7 linked regions of the Homo sapiens genome follow. The protein of the gene in region 4 purifies or fractionates together with the protein of the main gene of each other region. This does not show direct contact. Each region holds a gene or a part of one and is shown on either strand. Other genes may lie near its edges.

Region 1 (3,500 bases), on a different chromosome or scaffold from region 4:
CAACAGGGGCGAACGCAGCAGCCGCAGCAGCTCTGAGAGCACAGGGCCACTGACCTCCACCAAAGAGGCTGGCTGGGCCTGGGTCACTGTGGCAAGGAAGTCCACAGCCAGCTGGGCCACATGCATGTCGCTCTCGTTGACCAGGGCAGGCAGCTCAGCCAGCACGGCCTGCACGGCAGACGGTGGGAGGCTGAGGCCCTGGCTCTGGGCCAGGGCGTCCAGGGCTGCCAGTGTGGCCAGTCGCAAAGCCCGCTGGTTCTTCCGCAGGAATGAGGCCAGAATGTGCAGTGCCTCGGCCAGGATGGGCTGTAGGTCAAGCTGTAGTGGGGATACGGCCACCAGCGTAAGCGCCTTGATGGCGGGCAGCCGGGTGATCTCATTCCGCAGGCGGTCCAGGAGGAGCAGTAACGTGGGCTCCAGGTCATCCCCAAGCCGGTCACCCAGGTGGCCTACAAGGTGGCCCATGCAGGAAATGGCCCGCTCCTTCACCTCCTGGTCCAGGTCAGTGGCACGAAGTCGCGCCAGGGTGACAGCAGACATCTCTCCAACATATGGCTCAGGATCCAGCATCCGAGGCCTGTGCAGCGGCCACAGGGCCCGCACCAGCTCCTGCAGCACCACCAGGGCCTCGGCTGCAATCTTGTAGAAAGAGTCAGCCACACAGGCCATCACAGGTGGCAGGAGGATAGGCAAGTGTGGGTGGAAGGCCTCAGCTGGTTCGGTGCCCAGCAGCCCCTGCAAGAAGGCCAGGGCATCCATCCGGATGGTGGAGGAGCTGGAGCGGTCGGCCAGCGAGAAGATGATGCCTGCAGGGTGAATGCAAAGGTTATGAGGCCACCGCCTCTGATGCAACACGGCCCTCCCTGGAAGCAAGGCTGGGGTACCTACAAGTGCCTGAGCTGGACTGAAGCACCTAAACTCTTCTGCAGAAGTTTCCAAGAAGTCAGCCCTGACCAGTGGCCAGGGCTGAGGGAAACATGTCCAGGGAACTCACTGGAGCCAGCCTTGTTCTCACTGCTGGTAGTGGGAGGCCACTGGAGACTCTTGACCAGGGACTGAGCCTGGGATTGGGTCTCAGACTGTCTCAGGAACTGGGGGCTCAACTCAGGGGTGGGGTCTGGGTTCTGGAAGTGGCCCAGAACAGCAGATACCTGGTTGCAGTCCAGCCTACCTGATACCAGCACAGGCATATGCTCGGCCAGGCTGCCTGGGAGGACACCCGCCAGCTCGGTGAGGAGGCTGAAGCATCCCTGGCGGGCTCTGACGCTCCGATCTTTAAGCTGCCGCTGCAGGGCCTTGACCACAAGGGGCACCTGTGGGCAGGAGGGGGAAGTCAAGGTCAGGGAACACCCAAGAAACCTACCCACCTGCCCACTACCAGGAGGCTTTGCCAGACACATCCCCAGGGAGGATGTCGGCATCAAGATATCTCCCAAGCACTCGTCCCTCACTCTGTGCCAGGCTTTTGGTGACCGCACACAGACCCTTGGAGAGTAGGCAAATTTTCTGCGTCCATTTTACAGGTACAGAGAGACCAAGCAACTTGCTCAAGCTCACTCAGGCAGGCTGGCTGTCACTACTACACTCCAGAAGCCTGGCTGGCTCCCGCCCCCCACCCCAGGGACCCCTTCCCTTCCCTTCCATGGCTGGATGTTCTCCCAGCTGAGTTTCCAAGTCCAGGGACACTAACAGTGAGTGGCTGGGTAGGCAAATCGGGGGTAGGGGTGGAGGTGAAGGCACGCCCACCTGTCCACGTAGCATATGGAGGTTGCTGCCGGTCTGGGTGGGTTCCTCCATGGCCTCCAGCCATCCCTTCGGGGGCTGTGTTTGCCGCAGCAGCACGATGTAAGCAGTGAAGACGTCAGCCTTGACGTTCTCCTCGCGTTCTTTGAAGCGGCGGATGAGCACAGGTGCCAGGGTGCAGTGGAAATCGGGCAGCAGGTCAGGCCGCGAGCTGATCAAGGCTGCGATGCACTTGGCAGCTGCCCGGCGCACCTTCCAGCTCATGTCATCGTCATCGCTGTACTCGTCTTCACTCTCTGGGGCAGGAACAAGACACACGTGGAACCCTCATCTCCCAGGACAGGTCTGTGGCTCGGGGGAGAAGGGACAGGGAGGAGAGAGAGCTGGGCACTGTGCTTCACTTTTTGATGATCAGCATTTATAGATACCCTATGGGGAACATTCCCTACCTTTTAATGGGCATCTACTGAGTGCTACGGATGGGGCTAAGCATGTCAAACCCATAATCTTATTTTAGCTTCATGACGACCTTTTGAGACAGGGATTATTTCCCCATTATAGAGATGAGAAAACTGGGGTTTAGATAGAGGAAGTGGCTTGCCCCAAGTTAAGGAAATACTTGGAGTTAAACTAGGGTCCTCCCCTCTGCCTCCAGACCCTTAATTGTCTGGACTGTACCAGGGAAAAAACAGACTTCCAAGTCTTCATGTAGACTTGGAGAATCAATTTGGGGCACAAAACTCATCTTTTGGCATCAGGTTTGGCTATGTGATGTTTCGTTTACTGGGACTCCAGAAGGGAGAAGGGACAGAGCCTCCCTTTGGCCTCTTCTCTCCCCCGATCTCTGCCTCTCAAGGGTCCTGATTCCAAAGGCTTCCAGGCAGGATTAATAAAGAGGAAATGCTGGGTTTGTGTGGCTTTCTACCTGACAATCTCCCTGAAAGTCAAGGGCTCGTGCAGTCTTTACCATCACCTCAAAAGTGAAGGTACTGCCAAGCTCCATTTTACAGACGATAAGACTAAGACTCAGAGCGGGTGAGACTCTCAGGGCACACAGCGAGGAACAGCAGAGCTGAGATTCAGGTCCACGAGGCCCAGCCCTATCACCTGTGGAGGCACACAGGAGGCTCAGAGGGGGACAGTCTTGCCTGGGAGCACCCCAAGGCACAGGCTCAGAGCCCAGCATGGCCTTGCCCATACCACTCTGTGGACCACTTGGACCCACAGGGTGGTGTCTGGACAGCCACAGTGGGCCACGGCCACCGGGCAGCTCAGCAGCCATCCCCTCTAATGGATCACTGTCACCCCCACAGTAGGCCACCCACGAACACACATCCTTAGCTCTCTATTACTGACAAGTGTCCCACCTCCCTGGCTTGGCATTCAAGGCCCCCGCATGCCTGTCCAATCTCATTTACCATCCCATCTTGTTCCAAGTACCCCATCAGGCTCTAAATCCATCGTCTCCATCGATGCCCTGCCTTCAGGCCTAGGGGCATCTCTGCCCTGGAAATCTGTCTGAATGACAGACAGGACCACAGGCATAGGAGGAAAGAAGCTATCAAGTCCACCCCCATTGAGACATCTTGCTCCCCTGCCAGTGCCTGCCATTCCACCATCAGAGCTTTCCTCTGCTGGGTTAAAGACATTATCTCCTGAAAGCCATTCATAAAAGGGTACACGGTGGCAGTGCAGAGGTGGGGGAGCCTGACAGACCTGGCTCTAAGGCCCAGCTATGCCAATTCCTAGTTGTGTTA
Region 2 (3,500 bases), on a different chromosome or scaffold from region 4:
TGAGCCAAAGGGCAACACTGCCAAGAGGGCTATATGAAGTTGTTTTCTAAAGCTATTTTTGTTAGGAAATTTAATTTCTCTAGTTCCCTTTCCCATGGTGAAATAAGGACAGTTCATTCTGTTAATCTGGGTTTTCACCCTGACTCTAGATTCTCCTTAATTATACCTTTATTCCTATCCAAAATGGCATCCTTTGACTTCCTAAGAAATCCTCTGCCCTCTTTCATTCTCTAGTCTCATTCTCTTTTAGTCTTTTGCTTCCCTCTCGTTATCCTTGCTCCCCTTTCTCTCTTATCACCCCATATGGCAAAAACATTATCTATCTAAAACTTGGTTTAGAAGGGAAAACCCAAAGGAGAGCATGGAGGATAAAGGATCACTTAAGAAATACATGCTATTGGTCTGAAGGGTCTCCTAGAGAGACAAGACTTGGCAGTACTTTGACAGTCAACTAATAAGAATTGTGAACAGGGATTGTTGGAGAAGGATGCGGTTTTGAGTAGACCCCCTGGACAAGCCCCCTATTTCTCATGGGAGTTGGTAAGCACCACAAAACCACAGCTGAAAGGAAAAAGAAAACTCCACCACTGGCCTTTTTCCGAGCGTGGCCGCCTTCCGCTCGGCTCAGTGCCCGCCACATGCCCAGGAGTGCGTCTGGATCCTTGAGGGGCGCCCTTCGCAGGTGGACAGTGCTTACGCTATACTGCAAAAGAGCCAGAAAAGTGCCCATGAGAACCAGAAAGCAAACTTCCAGCCAGCAGGATCATCTCTCTAGGCATCTAAGATGGGGAAATCAATACAGGTATCTCGGCAGCATCTGAATGCCAGGAAAGGTGAGGGAGAGATAATTTCCCCCCTCCCCTGTTCAACATAATGGTGGTAGAAGGGAAGAAAAATGTATTCTCTGTGACTTATCTACTGGGAACTAGACAAGGCCAAATGATAGGGGAAATGTCATCATTTGTAATAGGCAAAAAAGAAATAAGCAAAGAAGAAAATGTCCTAGGGTCTAAATCTAGTTATGTAAGAAAGTCTGTGCATGCTGGCACGAAGAATTAAAGCTTCTGAATGAAAGCAACCCATTCCACCACTTGGATAATGCCATTCTTAGAGGAAAAGTAGAGAAAGAAGTAGAAAAAGAGGGAAAGAACTTCATTTTAAGATATAAAAAAATAAAGCACGAATACACCAAAAATAAAAGGCTGACATTCTCAAAAGATGGTAATTCTCATGATCTCACCGTAAGTCAGACAAAAACAAAAGAAAAAGAGTTGATGAAGCTGAGTACAGAATATGAGACTTTGACGTAAGAGATCTTCGGTGGTTCATAACCTCTCCAGTCTTTTTAACTACTATGTTTGTAAAGTGCTTAATATGAACCTGCCTATTAAACAAAACAGAATTAGAAAGCATGCTTTAGACTCTTAGCAGTGCAACAAAAAAAAAAAAGAAAAGAAAAGTTTTTTTACTCTAACGAATAAAAAAACTTAAAAAAAATTTTTTTTACCCTATTTAGGTAGAAGTAAATTTCCTACAAACCTGATCAAACTCAAAATCTCAATCCTCCTAAGAAAAATGAAAGGGGCCAGGTGTGGTTGCTCATGCCTATAATCTCAGCACTTTAGGAGGATCACTTGAGGGCAGGAGTTCAAGGCCAGCCTGGTCAACACAGCAAGACCCCATCTCCAGAAAAAAACTAAAAAAATCAGCCAAGTATGGGCATGTGCTTGTAGTCACAGCCACTTGGGAGGCTGAGGTTGGGAGGACTGCGTAAGCCCAGGAGTTAGAAGCTGCAGTAAGCTATGATCACACCACTGCACTCTAGCCTGGGTGACAGAGCAAAACTCTGTATCTTAAAAAAAAGAAAGAAAGAAAAATGAAAGGTTAACAATTATCTGCAGAATACTGTACACCATAATAACTTCCAAACTTTCAAGCAATGTTCTTCTCAATTCAGGATGGGAGTGCTATCTGATGAAGGTGGTTACTGGCATCATCTCCTTATCTAATTAGCCCTGTTAAATAGACTTTAAATATTCAGAGAGGTTTGCTGGGTTTCTTCCAGATTCCAAGTGACTAGCAAAAATAGCAAGCACAGGGGCTCAAGAAAATCATTCCAGCCAGGCGCAGTGGCTCACGCCTGTAATCCTAGCACTTTGGGAGGGCAAGGTGGGTGGATCACCTGAGGTCAGGAGTTCGAGACCAGCCTGGCTAACATGGTGAAACTCCATCTCTACTAAAAATACAAAAATTAGCCTGGCGTGTTGGTACGCGCCTGTAATCCCAGCTACTTGGGAGGCCTAGGCATGAGAATCACTTGAATCTAGGAGGCGGATGTTGCAGTGAGCCGAGATCATGCCAATGCACTCCAGCCTGGGTGACAGAGCGAGACTCTGTCTCAAAAAATAAAATTAAAAAAAAAAAAAAAATCATTCCAGGACACCAGGCTGATGAAGTAACCTATCTTATCCTTTTCAGATTGACACGCTACATGAATCAAATGGATCTCTCACATACACACACTTCCTTGGCTTAAGAGAACAGGTGCCCATTCTGGAAAATGTGATAATTAATTATAGGCAATTTATTTATTTATCAGAAAATATCAGCTGGTACACTAAATGATCAGGACTACTCTAGGCTCCAGCAATCTTTATTTTCTAAGATAACTGCTTCTTAAAATCTCATCTATAGTACAATTTGGTCACAGCATGTCAACTTCTCTTGCCTGTCCTTTTAACAGGGAGTTGACAATTGACCTGTGTCCTTTCCCCATAAATTAGATATTCTTCCATTTAATCTTCAAGACAAGGGATCATCACCTGGTAGCCAAGGAAGGTAACAAATGTTTTTGGCAAAGGGAACGGACCAGTTAATCTTAAAGACCATGTGGGATCAGTCTCCTATGTGATGGACTAATAAACAGCTCACAAAGACAGTGTGGTTATTTGAGAGGACAGAGGGAGGACTAGATCTGGTTGTCACCTGATCCTGGGCCCCATGGAACCAAAAAATGATCAAAAGATTACCAGAACACAAATAATAATAGACACCAAATCCCAGATTTCTCATTAACTTCAAGTTTTAAGAGTGTTTCCGGCCTGGCCGGTTGGCTCATGCCTGTAATCTCAGCATTTTGGGAGGCTGAGGTGGGCAGACTGCTTGAGCTCAGGAGTTCAAGATCAGCCTGGGCAACATGGCTAAACTCCGCCTCTGCTAAAAATACAAAAATTAGCCAGGCATGGTGGTGCATGCCTGTAATCCCAACTACTTGGGAGGCTGAGGCACGAGAATTGCTTGAACCTGGGAGGTGGAGGTTGCAGTGAGCTGAGATCATGCCACTGCACTCCAGCCTGGGCCCTGGACCACAGAGTGAGACTCGGTCTCAAAAAAAAAAAAAGTGTTTCCTAGAATCAGAAAACAAGGTTCCTTCTACCAGGGTAAAACTAAAATGTGGGCTGGGTGCAGTGGCTCACGGCTGTAATCCCAGCACTTTGGGA
Region 3 (2,749 bases), on a different chromosome or scaffold from region 4:
ATGGAGTCTCACCCTGTCACCCAGGCTGGAATGCAGTGGCACAATCTCGGTTCACTGCAGCCTCTACCTCTCAGGTTCAAGCAATTCTCCTGCCTCACCCTCCTGAGTAGTGGGGATTACAGGTGTGCCACCACCATGCCCGTCTCTAATTTTTATATTTTTAGTAGAGACGGGGTTTCACCATGTTGGCCAGGCTGGTCTTGAACTCCTGACCTCAAGTGATCCACCCACCTTGGCCCCCCACAAAGTGCTGGGATTACAGGCGTGAGCCACTGTGCCTGGTCTATCTTTAAATTCCTATCTGAATTTGTTTAGGTTTTTTAAATAAAAATCTTTCTTTTTTTTTAGAGACAGGGGTTCACCATGGTGCCCAGGCTGATCTCGAACTCCTCCTGGACTCAAGCTATCCTCCCACCTCAGCCTCCCAAAGTACTGGGATTACAGACATGAGCCACATGCTTGACCTGAATTTTAACTGCAGTTAATTATCACTTAACCAGCGAATTCACACAGGAGAAATCCCCTGGCCGGGCGCGGTGGCTCACACCTGTAATCCCAGCTCTTCGGGAGGCCGAGGTGGGTAGATCACAAGGTCAAGAGATCAAGACCATTCTGGCCAACATGGTGAAACTCCGTCTGTACCAAAAATACAAAAATTACCTGGGCATGGTGGTACGTGCCTGTAATCCCAGCTACTTGGCAGGCTGAGGCAGGAGCATTGCTTGAACCCATGAGGTGGAGGTTGCAGTGAGCCGAGATCACGCCACTGCACTCAAGCCTGGGTGACAGAGCAAGACTCCATCTCTACTACAAAAAAAAAAAAAAAAAAAATTCAACCACCTTAGGAAGCCTCTCATTTATGTATTTCTAGCATGTAATTAGTGTTGCACATGGGAAGGGCTAATAGATGCTGACAGAGTGAACAACTTATCTATTTTGTGTGTGTGTGTGTAACAGGGTCTCATTCTGTTGCCCAGGCTGGAATACAGTGGCATGATCACAGCTCACTGCAAACTTCAACTGCCAGGCTCAGGCAACCCTCCCACCTCAGCCTCTTGAATAGCTGGGACTGCAGGCTCATACCACCACAACCAGCTAACTTGTATTTTTAGTAGAGACAAGGTTTCGCCATGTTGCTCAGGCTAGTCTCGAACTCCTGGACTCAAGTGATCCACCTGTCTTGGCTGCCTACATTGCTGGGATTACAGGCATGAGCCACCATGCCCAGCCAAATTTTTTTTTTTTTTTAAGGGAAGGGATCTTGCTATGTTGCCCAGGCTGGTCTCAAACTCCTCAGCTCAAGCAATCTGCCCACCTCAGCCTCTGAAAGTGCTGGGATTACAGGCATGAGCCACCATGTCCAGCACACTTTAATATTCACTATGGGCCCTCAAAAGGAAATGTTTGTGGGGCCACCAAAAGCAAATGTCTCTTGAACCTAGTCACCTGGGGGGACAAGTGTGGGAAAGTGCACCTGTGTTCCCATGAGACCCACTCAAGAGGAGCAGAAATCCTGTTTTGCTATTTCCTTAATTGCTACTAGGGCTGGGATTTTTTCATGTTTATTGGCCCCTCTACATTTTTTTCTTTAAAAAAATTCACAAAGCATGTTTATATTTGTTAGCTCTTTTGATTCTCCCTATGATAGTGTGAAGACAGGGACAAAACGCTACCATTTCACACTCCCAGATCTAACAATAGCTACCAAGTAATTATGCCATGCGTTTCTTCTAACCTTCGCAATATCACTACGAGGTAGTTCTTACTATCCTCATTTTACAGATAAGGAAACTGAGGCTAAGTGACGCTGGCAGACTTGCCCAAGGCCACACAGCTGGTAACAGGGACTGGTAGTCACTTGAGTCCTACATGAGCACCCTTGCTACTACAGCAGCTCCTCCCCTTTCTAGAGGCCTAGATGGAAAGATGCTGGTGTCAGCGGGGGGCACAAAGGTCCACCCAGTCCCACACATGCAGAGAGGCATCATTTGTTGCTGATAACAAAGTCCTTGGTCTGCAGGGATGCCAGGTGTGGGTGGTGACCAAAGGAGCAGGGTCCATCCCATTTCCATCTAGGAAGATGTGACCTCTGTGAGTGAAGAGAGGTTCTACTTGGCTCCGTGTTCCATCTTGGCTCCGTGTTCCATCCCAAGATGTGGCATCATAGACCTGGACTGTACCATCAAAACCTGAGAATACAGAAAAGAGAGGCTTGACAATGAGTCCCTAATTTTATTTTAAAATAATTTTCTTTCTATTTTTAATAGAGATGGGGTTTCACCATGTTGACCAGGATGGTCTTGAACTCCTAGCCTCAAGCGATCCTCCCATCTCAGCCTCCCAAAATGCTGGGATTACAGGCACCCAGCCCCTAAAATACTTTTTATAATTTGTTCTATGGTACCAAAACAGGCTATTGGATGAGGAATCAAGGCACTTAAAAGGCTAACCACGGGCAAGTAGCATCTGCCCTCAGTGTTGGCAGCTGATGACTCCGTGGGGCATGTAACCATGAGCATCCGTTGTGCACCTGTTATGCGTGAGGCTCGAAGGCTAATTCTGGACAAGTATTAGCTCTTTTAATCCTCAGAACTGTATGACACAGATACTGTTATTTTACCCAGGAAACTGAGGCTTAAGAGACTTCTTCAAACCTTTTCAAGTTGCCCCAGAGTCCAGTCCCCTACCTCTGGGTCCCTTTCAGCAGATGGCCTTGTCTCCTACTCGATGGGGGAAACAGAAGCCTTTG
Region 4 (3,500 bases):
CATTAGTGAGGGGCTGCCTGCTGGCTTGTTTAGGGGCCAGTTGGCTCAGTTTGGAATGGTTTAATATCAGCAACAATAGCATTGGGTTGATTTGAATATAAACAACTTAGACTTTAAAAGTTCATCCTGAAAAACAAGCCTTCAAGGACAAGTGAGGACATGAAGCAAATTCCTAAGGATGCCTGGGGTTCAGGAAGCAAAGAAGAATCTTTGGTTATTCATGAAAACCAAATACCAGCTATGTGGCATCTTCTGGGAAAGCACAGGGGTGGGAGAATCCTGGGGTGTGTTTGGCAGCACTGTCCAAAGTACAGTTGACTTCTTAGGCTGCTGAACAAATTTCTTCTCTTGCCCCAGGAGAATTTGATCTGCAGGTTCCCATAAGTAGAGTAACATCTTTCTCTTGAAATAGGTGCTGTGTCATAGTCTGTATCATAAGCTTCTCTTGGTCAACATAATGAAATGAAAGTAACTCAGCTCCTTGACTGGTATCAATCTTAGCAGGGATTAGGAGACAAGAAGAAAGCTGGTTTCTCCAACAATCTTCCTCAGATTCCCTAGAATCCCCCCTTTTTGCACAGCTTCTCTGGAGCTATGAAGTTCAAAGCATTGAATCCAAACTCGAAGTCCCCATTCAACCCACTCAGCCTTGACTGGGCTGATTGGATCATTGCCATTTTGATGTAGAACCTTTGCTCTCATTTTCATGTTCAATTTTCTATAGTTTCCAAGCTAGGAAGCATTTCTGTCTGTATAGAGTTGTTTGCAGGGATGAAATCAGGTATTTTATTTTCCTGGTAGACATAGTTTGAAGGGACCTCTGATGTTTGAGACCTCTAGATTCCTAGCATTTTGATGGCAGAAACTGTGGTTTTCTTATCTCTGAACTTCCAGTGCACTGCAAAGTTCTGGGCATATATTGGTGCTTAATAAACCCTGTTAAATGAATAAACAAATGATTTTTTCTTTATTACACCCCCATTTCAGTAGCATGGAATTATGAGGATGATTTTGCCAAATTATGAGTAGGTCCTATTAGATTAGGTTTTTCTACAGGAAATTATTCTTTCAAACTACAGTGTCTAGGAAGTACCTTGCACAAAATAGACACAGGATGCATAATTGTTGATTAATTAGTTCATTTTAACCTATACACCTTGGGGTTATCTAGTTATGTTTTCATGAAAACTAGGGCTTTGTAATATCAATGTCATGTCTAATAAGCCTAAATTTCCAGTTCTAAAAACAAAGTTATTCAACAACACTTTCTCAATTTGATGTGTTTTTCTTTTCCTGAAATAATTTTTTTCTTAAGCTTTTGATATTTGCTTTTGTGCTGACATTTGATAGTCAAAACTCAAACGATCTCAAGTACTTCTTTCTCAGCTCAATAGGATCATGTTTCGCTTAACATTTGTGAAGTTGATTTATCTAATTCATTTTGATCTTGCTAAAATATGACCTTTAAAATTTTTCATGTCACATTGTGACCCAGAAAGACCAAATACATACATGAGATCATAGTTTTACCTGATAATATCACTCCTAGTTTGATGATGGAATTAATTTGTCAATATTTCATGGAGTTCTGCTGAAACGATTGCAATTTCTTGGGCAAGTTTCAGAACGACTAGTATATCTGTGGTCATGTCATCTTGGGTCATGTTAACCAGTTCCATTGGATTATCATGCTGTTCCCTTGTCTGACAAAAGGATCTTTGTGAAAGCACACACTGTTTCTTCCCATAACTCACATTCAATTCCAGACCCTGAATTTCTGCTTGCTCACTGTGAGCCATATTGTTGAGATTGTCTGTGCATAGGCAACTTGAGCAGGTTTGGTTTGCCTTTCTGGAATATATTTTTTGGGGAACAAAAGGAGAATATCAAAGCAGAGTTATTCCAGAAGATCATTTTTCTCTTTTCCTTTTTGTTTTCTTAAATGGGAAAAAAACAGCTCTTAAGGTTCTTATTATTTATTCATTCATAAAACATGTATTTTGTCTATGTCTATACTGATAAAGACAACTTACTAGATGTTAGACAATCAATACTTCCCTACTACTGATCAATACAAACCCAATCTCTGCTGTCCTGGTCTTATGATCCAGCAGGGAAGCTAGACTGCCTGCCTATGGTTTAGGAAATAATACAAGCTCCAATCCTTTCTAGGTTATTAAAAGAATCTAAGGTAGTTCCTCCAATTTTGGATCAATGGTAAATACTTTAAGGTAGAACTCCATTGAGTTGCTGGAAAATGCATCATCTATTGGTAAAATACTTAAGATAGTAAGTTCTTCAAGAATACTAATAAGTAAGTTAAAAAATTAATTGGCGCATATGTGGAGAGTATGACTCACTCTCCTTTATTGTTGGTTTCCAGTAACTCATGTACATAAAGAAGAGCATAGTAACATGTTGGATGTTAGGCAGGTGATCATCTCAAGTGAAAGATTCCAGGAAGATCAGGATTCAATAATCAAGCCCTCAGGAAGGGGCATAGGGTTTCTTAGGTTGTAATCCCCACTGGCACTTTCAGCCATATTGAAGGAGTGGGGAAAAGGCCCAAATAACCCATGCCCTTTGTCCTTCAGATTGCCAGCATGTCAAATGGAAGCCCGTGGGGCTTCATGTCTGATGCATTGAGCATTCTGGTATATTTCCCATCTCAGACTTCAAGGTCTACACCCATCCATTTATGGGGCTCTCCATAAAAAACACCCTTCTGCTGCTCACAATGTCTGCCCTTGGCCTGGGACTTTGGGCTTTGGTTCTAAGTTCCTAAAGTCAGGGGTCAAGCTCTAATCATTACTGTATTCTGAGCTTTTTGTACAGTAACTGTTGACATGTGAGTTGAAAGGAACCTATCTCTGAGGAAGTGATTCCTCTCTCCAACATAGTGCCAGACTCTCGTATTAGGAAATGATGAAACCATCAACCAAATGTCTGCCATAGCTACTGTGGCTCTTGACAAGACTGTGAGGGAGAATAGCAGTGTCAGCTGCATACAGACATTTGTTTAGGTCATCTGGATTATCTTGATTGTCACCATGGCAACTATCCACAACCAGTGCCTAGGTGTGTGAGAAGAGTGATACAATAATACTGTGGCATGGTCATTTAGCTAATTCAGTCTAAGCCTAACAGAAACCTTTTCCATCAAAGTTTTTCAGAGAATAACAACATCTCATAAGAGGCCAGAGGATGGCTTGTGCTTAATATCACACCTGTACAGTAGGGCAGTGCTTCCCAGGCTGTCTGCTTACATTTTAGCTTGTCTTACGGTTACATATGGTTTTAGTATTTTCATTTAAAAAATCTGGGTTGGTTCCATAAATTTGGAAAAGTAAAATTGGACGGTTCTGGAAATTTTGCCTGTTTACACATCTGTAAATGTAGCTTGCTTGCATTATTTTTTTCTAGATCTGAAATGCATTGCATCAAGCAAGCATGTTTTGCAATAAAAGTGGAAATCCCCCTCCTGCTGGATAAACTGGGTG
Region 5 (3,500 bases), on a different chromosome or scaffold from region 4:
CAGCCTGGCCAACATAGTAAAACCCAGTCTCTACTAAAAATACAAAAAATTAGCCGGGCGTGGTGACGGGCGCCTGTAATCCCAGCTACTCGGGAGGCTGAGGCAAGAGGATCATTTGAACCCGGGAGGCGGAGGTTGCAGTGAGCCGAGATCGCGCCACTGCACTCCAGCCTGGACAACAGTGCGAGACTCCATCCCAAAATAATAATAAAATAATAATAATAATAATAATAATAATAATAATAATAAAATAAAGAACAATAAACTAGTTCTGTCACTCATGGTTTAGAACTTGCTGAGAAAGAACTGTCTTTGAGCTGGGCTCGGTGGCTCACACCTGCAATCCTGGCACTTTGGGAGACTGAGACGGGACGATGGCTTGCATCCGGAAGTTTGAGACCAGCCTAGGCAACATGGATACCCACTTTGTAGAGACCAAAGATAAAAAATTAGCCAGGTGTGGGGGCACATGCCTGTGGTCTCAGCTACTCAGGGGGCTAAGGTGGGAGAACTGCTTGAGCCCAGGAGGTGGAGGCTGCAGTGAGCCATGATCATACCACTGCAATCAGCTAAAAAAAAAACAAAATAATTTTCTTTGGATACTTACAAACTGTTCTGTCTAATAAGTGAAAATGACCAGAGACCAAAATGAAAAATATATTAGGCTGAATTACACCAAATTGTCCACATCCCCCATTTTTGACCACACTGCAATTAGGTGTTTCAACCCAACGCATTTTGAACCCCCCGTGTATTTTGCTTGTATCTAGAAAATACTCATATGACCAACAAGAAAAATAAAATGTTCACTAAGAATGAGAAAATTCAGAGAGTGTAATCACGCAAATCCCAGTGATTTAAATAAGCCACAGGGAGTGCAGCCAGCCCTTCACAGCATCTTCCAGGATGGCCCCCGCCCCAGGGCAAGTGTCACTGCTCCTGTGTTCCTGAGACACTGGGGCCCCTACCCAAGGTCAGGCAGGGAACAAGTGTGGCTGGGACTGGGCTTCAAAATCCAAGCCGGGACACCCTGCTGGGCTGTATTCCTCCCCAGTCTCGTTTCCTGGTGTACCACGCGAAACTACTTCTATTTCCATCCATCCCACAACGCACCCTCTTCCACATTTTGACACTGCTGGAATGCAGATTAATCTCACAGTTGGGGTCTGTCTTGATTTAACTGGGCACGCCTTTTTCTTGGCACTATATGAAACAGGGTGCCTCCCCAATGACAGCGCCTTCGATTTGATGAAATATCACAGCAGTGTTTAATACACAGGCTGTCGTGAGGTAGAATGCCTGTGAGGCATCTGTGCAATGAGACATTCTGCAGCTGGGGGAAAGATTGAGGCAGGTCTGTATGCTGACTTGGGATGATCTGAGACTTCTTAAGAGAAAAAGGAAGGTGCAGGGATGGGCAAGGTAGCTCACTCATGTAATCCCTGCAATTTAGGAGGCAGAGGCTGGAGGACTGCTTGAGCCCAGGAATTCCAGACCAGCCTAGACAACATAAGAAGACCACGCCTTTATAAAAAATTTCAAAATTAAGGAAGGTGAAGAACAGTATACAGTTCTGTGCTCCTAAGTTAGAAAATAATGAACTTCTGCAGACACATGCTCACATAGGCACAAACATCTCCAGAAGAGAAGTCATGATCCTGGAGCCCTGCCTGCCTCCAAGGGAGGGGAACTGGGAGTCGAAGGAAAGGAACAGCCTCTAATAACAAATGGGAAGCACTTGCTATCATCAACTATCCCTACTCCCACCCATTATGAAGGAGGAACTGGGGCACAGATTGAAAAAACAGATTCCAGAAAAACAGCAGTTGCTCCAGGCTTGGTAGCTGGAATTACAAAAGGCACGCTGCCCTCCCCACCCACTCAGAGACTGGAGTCCCCATAACCCATCTATGTCCACCCCACGGAGGCAGAGATTTCCACCTGCTTTGAACACAGTTCTGCCCCCAGAACTCATGGTGGATACTCAGTAGATACTTGGGTAATGAAAGAGTGAGGCAGCCAAAGTCCAAGTGGCCCCAGGGCCAGGGCGCAGCAGGGCCCAGTGCAGACCCGGGCAGAGCACGCACTGAGCCCTGGTGCACACCCGGGCAGAGCGGTGTTGGCTTCTGCACTCCCTGGCCCAACATCTCAAGCCAGTATTTCTCAACTTGCTTTAACCCATGCCCCCTTAGGAACAAATTACAGCCTAATTCCCAAACCCTACACTAATATTCCTGTTTTTCAAAAAAAAAAAAAAAAAAAAGCAGGGGCCGGGGACAGGGCAGGAGCCCATTCCATGACAGGCTTTTTTCTTTTTTGTTTCTTTTTGTTTTTGGAGACAGAGTCTCGCTTTGCTGCCAGGCTGGAGTGCAGTGGCTCCCAGGTTTAAGCGATTCTCCTGCCTCAGCCTCCAGAGTAGCTGGAACTACAGGCACCCGCCACCATAATTTTTGTATTTTTAGTAGAGACAGGGTTTCACCATGTTGGCCAGGATGGTCTCGATCTCTTGACCTCATGATCTGCCTGCCTCGGTCTCCCCAAGTGCTGGGATTACAGGTGTGAGCTGCTGTGCCCAGCCTTCCATGACATGCTTTATCAGACATAGTTGTCCTCTCACAAATTTTAAATTTTTTTAATGCTGACTCTGAGTAAATGATGGCGGATTGGGAAAAAAAAAATCACAGATCTCCTAAGAGATACAGTGAAGATATTAAAAAGGAAAATATGTCTCTCATATATAAAGATCTTGAGAGACTGTCACGTGAAGATGGCAGATTGCAGACTAAGATGTACAGCGTGGTATCATCTTTGTTTTCAAAGACAGGGGTGGAGAGAACACAGATGGTCCCTCTGTGGAGAGAACCCAAATACATGAAGGATGGCACTGCCACACCACCAGCCCAGAAGCAGCTCTGGGAGGCTACTCCAGATGGGAATCAGGAGCACAGGCCCTGGACCCACCCCAGCTGGGGCTCCAAGAGTGGCTCTGCCACCTGGACCAGCTCAGCCCTCCCAGCTCTCCCCTCCACCAGGGCCTGGGCCTGGGGCTAAGAGGTTGGCGGGCTGTCGGCGCAGAGCACCGCGCGCAGGGCGGGGTGGAAGGGAGGGTGCCGAAGACACTCGCAGGGGCGGGCCTACCCCACCTACCCTGGCTCCCACTGCCCACCCTACAGAAAGCTCCAGAAACCACAGCAATGCAGGAGGTTATCTGGGAGTAACTGGGGCTCGCCTGCTGCCTGACTAGCTTCCGATCCAATTCTAACTGGACCAAAGTTGCAAGGTTGCAGCACTCAGAATTCCAGATGAAAAGCAAGGGCCTCTGTCCAGGATCCTTCTCAAGGGTTTGCAACATGGCGTCTGGGGCAAAGGGGAGCTCCCCATGAAGCTGGGCCTCAAGTATCTTCTAGCCCCCAGAGGAGAGCCCCTGGGTAAACCACGACTGTAAAAATAACAGCACTGAGTGGCTAGCTCCAGACACCACCTCGCTTGATTCTCAAGAG
Region 6 (3,500 bases), on a different chromosome or scaffold from region 4:
GACTTAACATACATATAAATATAATCTCCTATTTTTAATTCTAGCTCAGACCTCTCCCATACCTCCAAAGTGGTATATCCAAGTTACTCAACACTTTCATTCGTATCTCTCACACTTAACATACCTAAAACTAAATTTCTAACCTTTGTCCCCCAGATCTGCTCCACTCACAGCCTTTTAAAACCTCACTAAAGGCCGGGCACCGTGGCTCACGCCTGTAATCCCAGCACTTTGATCTGCGTGGATCACCTGAGGTCAGGAGTTCAAGACCAGCCTGGCTAACATGGTAAAACCCTGTTTCTACTAAAAACACAAAAAATTAGCTGGGCGTGGTGGCTCGTGCCTGTAATCCCAGCTACTCTGGAGGCTGAGGCAGGAGAATCGCTTGAATCTGGGAGGTGGAGGTTGCACTGAGCCGAGATCACGCCATTGCACGCCAGCTTGGGCAACAATAGCGAAACTCCGTCTCAAAAACAAAAACAAAAATCTCAGTAAATGTCAATTCTATCCTTCTAATTGCTGAGACCAAAAATCTTGTGGCTCTTTTTGACTCCTCTTTTCTCTTACACCCTACGTTCCAATAAGAAATCCTATTAGTTCTACTTTCAAAAATGAACAAGTCAGACACCCTATTACTTGAGAGCCTTTGCTCAAACTGTTCCTTTGGTCAGAAACGTTCCTTTCTCAGATAAATGCAGTTTATTCCATCTTCTCCTTCAGATTTTATCTCAAATGTCACCTTCTCCATCAATCACACCTTGAACACTCCATTTAAAACTGTAAGCCTTCTCTCAAAACTCCCAATCCTCTTTACCCTGCTCTACTTTTTCCTCCATACACTTTTATTCTTTTAACATACTCTACTTTTTCTTACATCACATATCAGTGTCCAATTACTGCTTTTAGAGTTTAAACTCTAAGAATGCAGAGATTATTTATTCTATCCCAGCAGCTAAAATAGGGCCTAGCACTTAATACTATTAAATATTTAACAAATTAATCAACTATAAACTAGCATTTATCCATTCTATTCATTCAAGAAATATACATTGTCTAACATGTTTTAGATAGTGGAGTTACAAAGATCAGTAAGAGGTACAGGTAAAGAAGGACCATTTATTAAATATCTACTATGTGTCAAGCACATACATTATCTGTCAGGATCTAAAGTAATTTCTTCAAGGTCTCATAGCTAATAAGTATAAAAATGAATTTCAAACATTAGTCAGCTTGACTCTGAAGTCCACATTCACTCCACTACACCAGGCTGCTCCTTCATAAATTATACTATCCCCTGCCATAAAGCAAGATTTGATCCTTGGCTATTATTATTTATCCCAAAATACTAATGTTTCTAATACTTTTGGACACAATTTTACCTATTCTAGAATACACTGTAGAATCAAATATCGACCTCATATAGAGTATCAATTAGAGGATGTATGAAGAAGGCAAGGCAATCTTCTTAACTTACCCCTTTAACATGTTCAAAGGTGACATTTTTCATCTGGACAGGATCTACTGCAGAATCAAGCCCTGTTGTTGTCCGGAAGCGGACTAAAGGGAAGAAAAGAAATGTTTATATTTGATAGATTAATAACATTCCAATCACCTTGTTTTTTAGATGCAAGAAAGCAAAGCCTAGAAAAATTAAATGTCTAAGTGACCTAACTTCACATATCAAATCAGAGTGAGGAATAGAAACTAGGTCTTCTGGATTTCTTTTTTTTTCTTTTTGACAGAGTCTTGCTCTGTTACCAGGCTGGAGTGCAGCGGCACGATCTTGGCTCACTGCAACCTCAACCTCCCAGGTTCAAGCGATTCTCCTGCCTCAGCCTCCCAAGTAGCTGGGATTACAGGCATGCGCCACCAAACCCGGCTAATTTTGTATTTTTAGCAGAGACAGGGTTTTCCATGTTGGTCAGGCTGGTCTTGAACTCCTGACCTCAGGTGATCCACCCGCCTCAGCCTCCCAAAGTGCTGGGATTACAGGCGTGAGCCACTACGCCCGGCTGGTCTTCTGGATTTCTAAACCATCTTCAAAGAGTAAGTGATTCACGTTAAAAAGACATATTTCGGCTGCTCTGCCTATGGAGTAGCCATTCTTTTATTCCTTTACTTTCTTAATAAACTTGAAAAAATAAAAAATAATAAAGACTGGGCGTGGTGGCTCACACCTGTAATCCCAGCACTTTGGGAGGCTGAGGCGGGCAGATCGCAAGGTGAGGAGATCGAGACCATCTTGGCTAACGGTGAAACGCCGTCTCTACTAAAAACACAAAAAATTAGCTGGGCATGGTGGCGCAAGCCTGTAGTCCCAGCTACTCGGGAGGCTGAGGCAGTGAAATTGCTTGAACCCCAGGAGGAGGAGGTTGCAGCGAGCCAAGATTGCCCCACTGCACTCCAGCCTGGGCAACAGAGCGAGACTCCATCTCAAAAAAAATAAATGAAATAAAATAAAAAAATAAAATAAAATGACCTATTTGTACTTTTCAGTTAATAAAATCAAAAATTATTTTCTACTTCTTATTGTAGTATCTAATGATAGAAATCTTAAATCAAAGTTTCTCAAACTTTGGTGTGAATAAAACTCACTTGAGAAGTATGTTAATTCTCAGGCCACAGCACAGGGCCCAGGAGAATTTTCATTTTTAACAAACACTTCAATTATTCTAATTGGTCACAGGTCTACACTTTGAAACACATTGCCTTAAAGTTAGCAGAAAACATTGACACACATTAATAAAAAATTGAGGCTTAACACATTATTATACTTTTCATGTAGTCTTCTTCCTCTGACAACTGTTATTACTTGCCCTCAAATGACCTATCAATTATGACAACATTAAGTCTGACAAGCAAGACAGAAAAAGTCTGATAGGAGAGTAAAATATTTGAGATCAATTTTGGAGAACTATTACAAGGATTTCTTAAGTCTTTCCCACTCAGGTAGAAACTTCCAAACTAGAGCAGTTATAAATGAGTAAATTGAGCAATTTCTAATTTCCTCAGAAGAAGCCCAAAATACTGTTAAGATAGGCTGAAAAATGAGCTGGCAAAATATGGGGTTAAGGAGAAATGCTTAATAAATCAGGAACATAGAAGCTGGGAAAACAAATTTAAAATAGTAATTCTAGAATGAACACCAATAGTTTTGGCCCACAAAGTATTTTTTAAGAATCTGTACATATCCTTAATATTTAAGAGAATAGGCAACACAGGGTGAAAACTGCACAGTAGTGGAAAAGGTAATTGGAACCACGTAAGTCTGACACTATTGCTTAATTTCAGATAAGCAAACTAAAAAAAAGGGAAACATTTAATGTGATTTTATGAATAAACTGAATTTGTTTATCTTTGAAATAGAAGACTATTTCAGCTTGTATTGCCATTATAAAATTCTTCTACATAATTTTAAAATTAATTAATTAATTTTCCTTTCACCCTGTTGACCAGGATAATTTTTAAATTTTATAATTGGACAGGTATCATTTTCTAAA
Region 7 (3,260 bases), 7.6 Mb from region 4:
TCAAATTGATGCGGAGCAGTCATCTATTCGATTCCCCAGCCAGTGGGCCCTGAGCTTTGTCATCTTTCCTCCAGTTTTGGAAGGCTGAAGACATTGATACTCCAGCTTTGGCAAAACCCCTCAAAGTGGAAGTTGGCATCAGTGCACAGCTCACCTCCCAGGACTTTGCCTACACACAGGTACTGGGGTGAATATTTCTGACTCTCCTGCCGGGTCATGGATGCACTTACAAATGTGTTTTCAGTAAGAGGCTTAGCCTAGACCCTTAGTCTAGATCTCTAGCCCTTCATGTTGAAAGCCTTTTTTGATCAAAATTTATTGTGTCTTAAGACATTGCTTGAGGCCCCAAGAGCCATGTGGTCACATACATCTCTCTCTCTTCCCTGCTTACTGGGATCAGAAATACCTCTTAACAAGTCATCATTGACAATTTCTTGGCTGGTAGGCTCAGAAGCCCCAAATGATGCTTACATGTTTTGAAACCATCTACAGGTCCGGACTTTGCTTGAATACTTCTATTGACAAAGAGCTCACTCCATCAGCATTTCCTGTCCCATTTCAGCACCTGTGTTAGAAAGTTCTTCCTTACATGCTTCATGTTACCTAATACATTAAGCCATGCAGGGGACTAACGGAGCATAGCAATGTGGCCTGTTAAGGGTTCCAGGAGAAGAATGGAATTTCAGGCACATGGCACAGGATATTTCAGGCACAGGACATGTGGATGGAATTAAAAAGAACAGCAATGGGAAGGCTAGGAGAAGGGACCCAGTATTTATTAAGAAGTTGCTATCATGTGCTAAAAAAAAATCTAGGAGGTTAAATCAAATAAACTGATATGAAAGTGTCCATGAAATAAGTATTTTTATCTCTATTTATTCAGATGAAAAAAAATCAAGGCTTAATTTAAGTAACTTGTCCAAGGTCAAGGAGTTGACAAGTGGCTGAGCTGGAGTTCAGCATCTCAGACATCTTCCTTTGAATCCTTGCCTTCCTTGTGAATTTCAGATGACGGAGCATGACGGCTGCATGATTATGGGGTCACCGGGCCTGTCCTGGCCCTGAGGGACCAAGGATCAGAAGGGCAGAACCAACTCGCTCAGCTAGTGAAGTGCAATGGACATGATCTGTTCCTGGCTTACCCTCCGCTGGCCTTCAGGAGGTTTCTGAATGCACCAGGGGCCTAGAGAAGCAGCAACTGCTGGACTGTATTGCCAGGTAGCCAGTAGCGTGGGGCCCTGGAAGAGGCTGGAGGATACTGCGCTGTCACTGAGACACCTGCCCCAGGTCCTCCATCTCAGCCACTGCCCACAAACACAGCTCCACAGCCAGAAAGACCCAGCCACAGAAATGCCAGCAAACAACACCCCTGGCTCCCCACATCCCACGGTAAAGCTCCAAACGCTTGGAGCACACACAAGGCCTGACTCCAGGTCACCTTCTCTACTGGGACAGAAAGGGTGCCCTGGGGGTGGGGAAGGGCCTGGGGCTGGCAGAGCCAGGCTGTATTTGGGTCATTTTCCAGGAGGCCTGGGTTATTTCTAACACCCCCTCCTCCAAGAAGACAACTTTGCCTCCTGCCCCTTGAGGTTCTTCCTTCTTGTGGCATCCAGCATTTTCTCTGGTAACTGTTGTGGGTATTTTTTGCAGTTTGGGAAACTAAAAAATATAGAAAACTGCAAGAAATAATTACAGTCACCAATATGCTTGCCACTCAGAATCAAACACTGCCAGAGTTTTCCATATTGGCTTTTCTAGGCTTCTATATGCATCTATATCTAATCTGGATCTGTGGCTGGATCTATATCTGTAGCTATGTGTGTACCTGTATCTTGATCTATTGTGCTTTTGAAAGGAAAGTACGTACTCAAGTCCCCGGTGACCAGCACCCTCATGCTGACATCAGATGTCAAATGCAACTCCAGTTCAGGTCACTCTTCTACAGGGGATGTGTATCCTTTCTACCTTTTAAACATGTTGTTATAGACACGTTCTGAGGCATAGAAAATTTATAATTTGGGGGGACATTGTCTACACAAGTGAGGTTGGGCTGAGCCCATCATCCTGCAATGTGTTGTTTCATTCAATGGCGTATTTTTGGGCTCTGTTGAGGTTGACACACATGGATGCTGTTTGTTCCATTCAGAAACAGCCCAGGTGGCCAGGCCCTCAACTACGCTGAGGCATCCTGAACGGAAGGGCTGAAGAGACCGCCCTGGGGTCTCCACCCCCTACTGCAGCCAGACCTTCTGGGGCTGCCTTCCCTGGGGAGCCTCGAGCAGATGCTGAATGAGCTCCAGGAACTGAGGGCCACTGGACACCCGCCCCCACATGCCCCCAGCCCACACCACATCACAGTGTGCTCCCATCATTCACTGAGCGACAACAGGAGGCCACAGATGGAACAAAAAATTTGTTCCTTAGGCCGGAGGCCACAGGGTGACCTTGCTCCCAGCGAGGGAGGTTTGGGCCTGGGACTTCAGGTCCTCAGGAAGTTCCCTCAGCCCCGCAGGCCTCCTGATGCCAACATGACTCTGCCCCATGGGAGGCCAGGGCAGCCACTTCCTGGCTCTGCCTGTTTGGCCAACTGGCCTTTAGGAAGCCCCGCTCTCTGTCCCCCAATACTCCATGGGAGTTTCAGTGCCCAACGGGCACCTGACGAGCCTGGTATCTGCTGGGGACCAAGGGCTGTTTATCCTCCCTGGGACCTGGGGAGCTAAGGGTCAACACAGCCAGAAGCCTGCCCCCAGAACAGGACTCTTGTGGGTAGTGTAGACACACCCCAGCTCTGGCCCTCAAGGGAGATGTGAGCCGTGTGCTTTCTCTCTCCGGTCCTCCCTGAGGAACGCAGGGCCAGCTGCCCACTGTGGCGGCAGCTCGGGCCCAGTCACACTCCTTCACTGGTGATCTCCCTCCCCTGCAGGCCTCCTTCCACCTCCCAGACAAGCTGCTGGTGACCAGATTCCTGTCTCAGCGTTTGCTTATGTGAGATCTCTAACTCAGAACCCGTCCCTTCCTGGGTCCGGCTTCTGCTGGGAAGCCAGCCACCTGAGGTGGGGGCTGACGGGCTGGGTGGGGGCCCCGGACTGCACTGGGCTAGCAGATGCAGGGAGGCAGGGAGGGGGAGGCAGGCCATTTATTGAAGAACTGCTTGCAGACATGGACACACACAGCCATGGTAACCAGACGCCACCCTGGGGCCAGGGAGCACCCAGAAACAGCCCTGGGCTGCCAGCCCAGGCCTGGACATTTGCCCACCA

What was found.
Region 1: the proteins of KCNQ3 (region 4) and CAND2 purify together in Homo sapiens (affinity purification with mass spectrometry, with the first as the bait; one large-scale study listed by BioGRID). This does not show direct contact.
Region 2: the proteins of KCNQ3 (region 4) and IPO9 purify together in Homo sapiens (affinity purification with mass spectrometry, with the first as the bait; one large-scale study listed by BioGRID). This does not show direct contact.
Region 3: the proteins of KCNQ3 (region 4) and WDR73 purify together in Homo sapiens (affinity purification with mass spectrometry; one large-scale study listed by BioGRID and IntAct). This does not show direct contact.
Region 5: the proteins of KCNQ3 (region 4) and AKT2 purify together in Homo sapiens (affinity purification with mass spectrometry; one large-scale study listed by BioGRID and IntAct). This does not show direct contact.
Region 6: the proteins of KCNQ3 (region 4) and YME1L1 purify together in Homo sapiens (affinity purification with mass spectrometry, with the first as the bait; one large-scale study listed by BioGRID). This does not show direct contact.
Region 7: the proteins of KCNQ3 (region 4) and TRAPPC9 purify together in Homo sapiens (affinity purification with mass spectrometry; one large-scale study listed by BioGRID and IntAct). This does not show direct contact.

Annotation. Positions count from the first base shown.
Region 1 is NC_000003.12:12,813,680-12,817,179, reverse strand, and holds part of CAND2 (cullin-associated NEDD8-dissociated protein 2), read right to left. Parts: intron 2,040-3,500; coding exon 1,747-2,039; intron 1,314-1,746; coding exon 1,172-1,313; intron 807-1,171; coding exon 1-806.
Region 2 is NC_000001.11:201,832,157-201,835,656, reverse strand, and holds part of IPO9 (importin-9), read right to left. Parts: intron 1-3,500. UniProt on the Homo sapiens protein: Nuclear transport receptor that mediates nuclear import of proteins, such as histones, proteasome and actin. Serves as receptor for nuclear localization signals (NLS) in cargo substrates.
Region 3 is NC_000015.10:84,641,535-84,644,283, forward strand, and holds part of WDR73 (integrator complex assembly factor WDR73), read right to left. Parts: intron 2,190-2,749; coding exon 1,936-2,189; 3' UTR 1-1,935. UniProt on the Homo sapiens protein: Component of a multiprotein complex required for the assembly of the RNA endonuclease module of the integrator complex. Associates with INTS9 and INTS11 in the cytoplasm, stabilizing the INTS9-INTS11 heterodimer and blocking the active site of INTS11.
Region 4 is NC_000008.11:132,124,596-132,128,095, forward strand, and holds part of KCNQ3 (potassium voltage-gated channel subfamily KQT member 3), read right to left. Parts: 3' UTR 1-3,500. UniProt on the Homo sapiens protein: Pore-forming subunit of the voltage-gated potassium (Kv) M-channel which is responsible for the M-current, a key controller of neuronal excitability. M-channel is composed of pore-forming subunits KCNQ2 and KCNQ3 assembled as heterotetramers.
Region 5 is NC_000019.10:40,243,846-40,247,345, forward strand, and holds part of AKT2 (RAC-beta serine/threonine-protein kinase), read right to left. Parts: intron 1-3,500. UniProt on the Homo sapiens protein: Serine/threonine kinase closely related to AKT1 and AKT3. All 3 enzymes, AKT1, AKT2 and AKT3, are collectively known as AKT kinase.
Region 6 is NC_000010.11:27,130,385-27,133,884, forward strand, and holds part of YME1L1 (ATP-dependent zinc metalloprotease YME1L1), read right to left. Parts: intron 1,558-3,500; coding exon 1,475-1,557; intron 1-1,474. UniProt on the Homo sapiens protein: ATP-dependent metalloprotease that catalyzes the degradation of folded and unfolded proteins with a suitable degron sequence in the mitochondrial intermembrane region.
Region 7 is NC_000008.11:139,727,225-139,730,484, forward strand, and holds the end of TRAPPC9 (trafficking protein particle complex subunit 9), read right to left. Parts: 3' UTR 501-3,260; downstream 1-500. UniProt on the Homo sapiens protein: Functions as an activator of NF-kappa-B through increased phosphorylation of the IKK complex. May function in neuronal cells differentiation. May play a role in vesicular transport from endoplasmic reticulum to Golgi.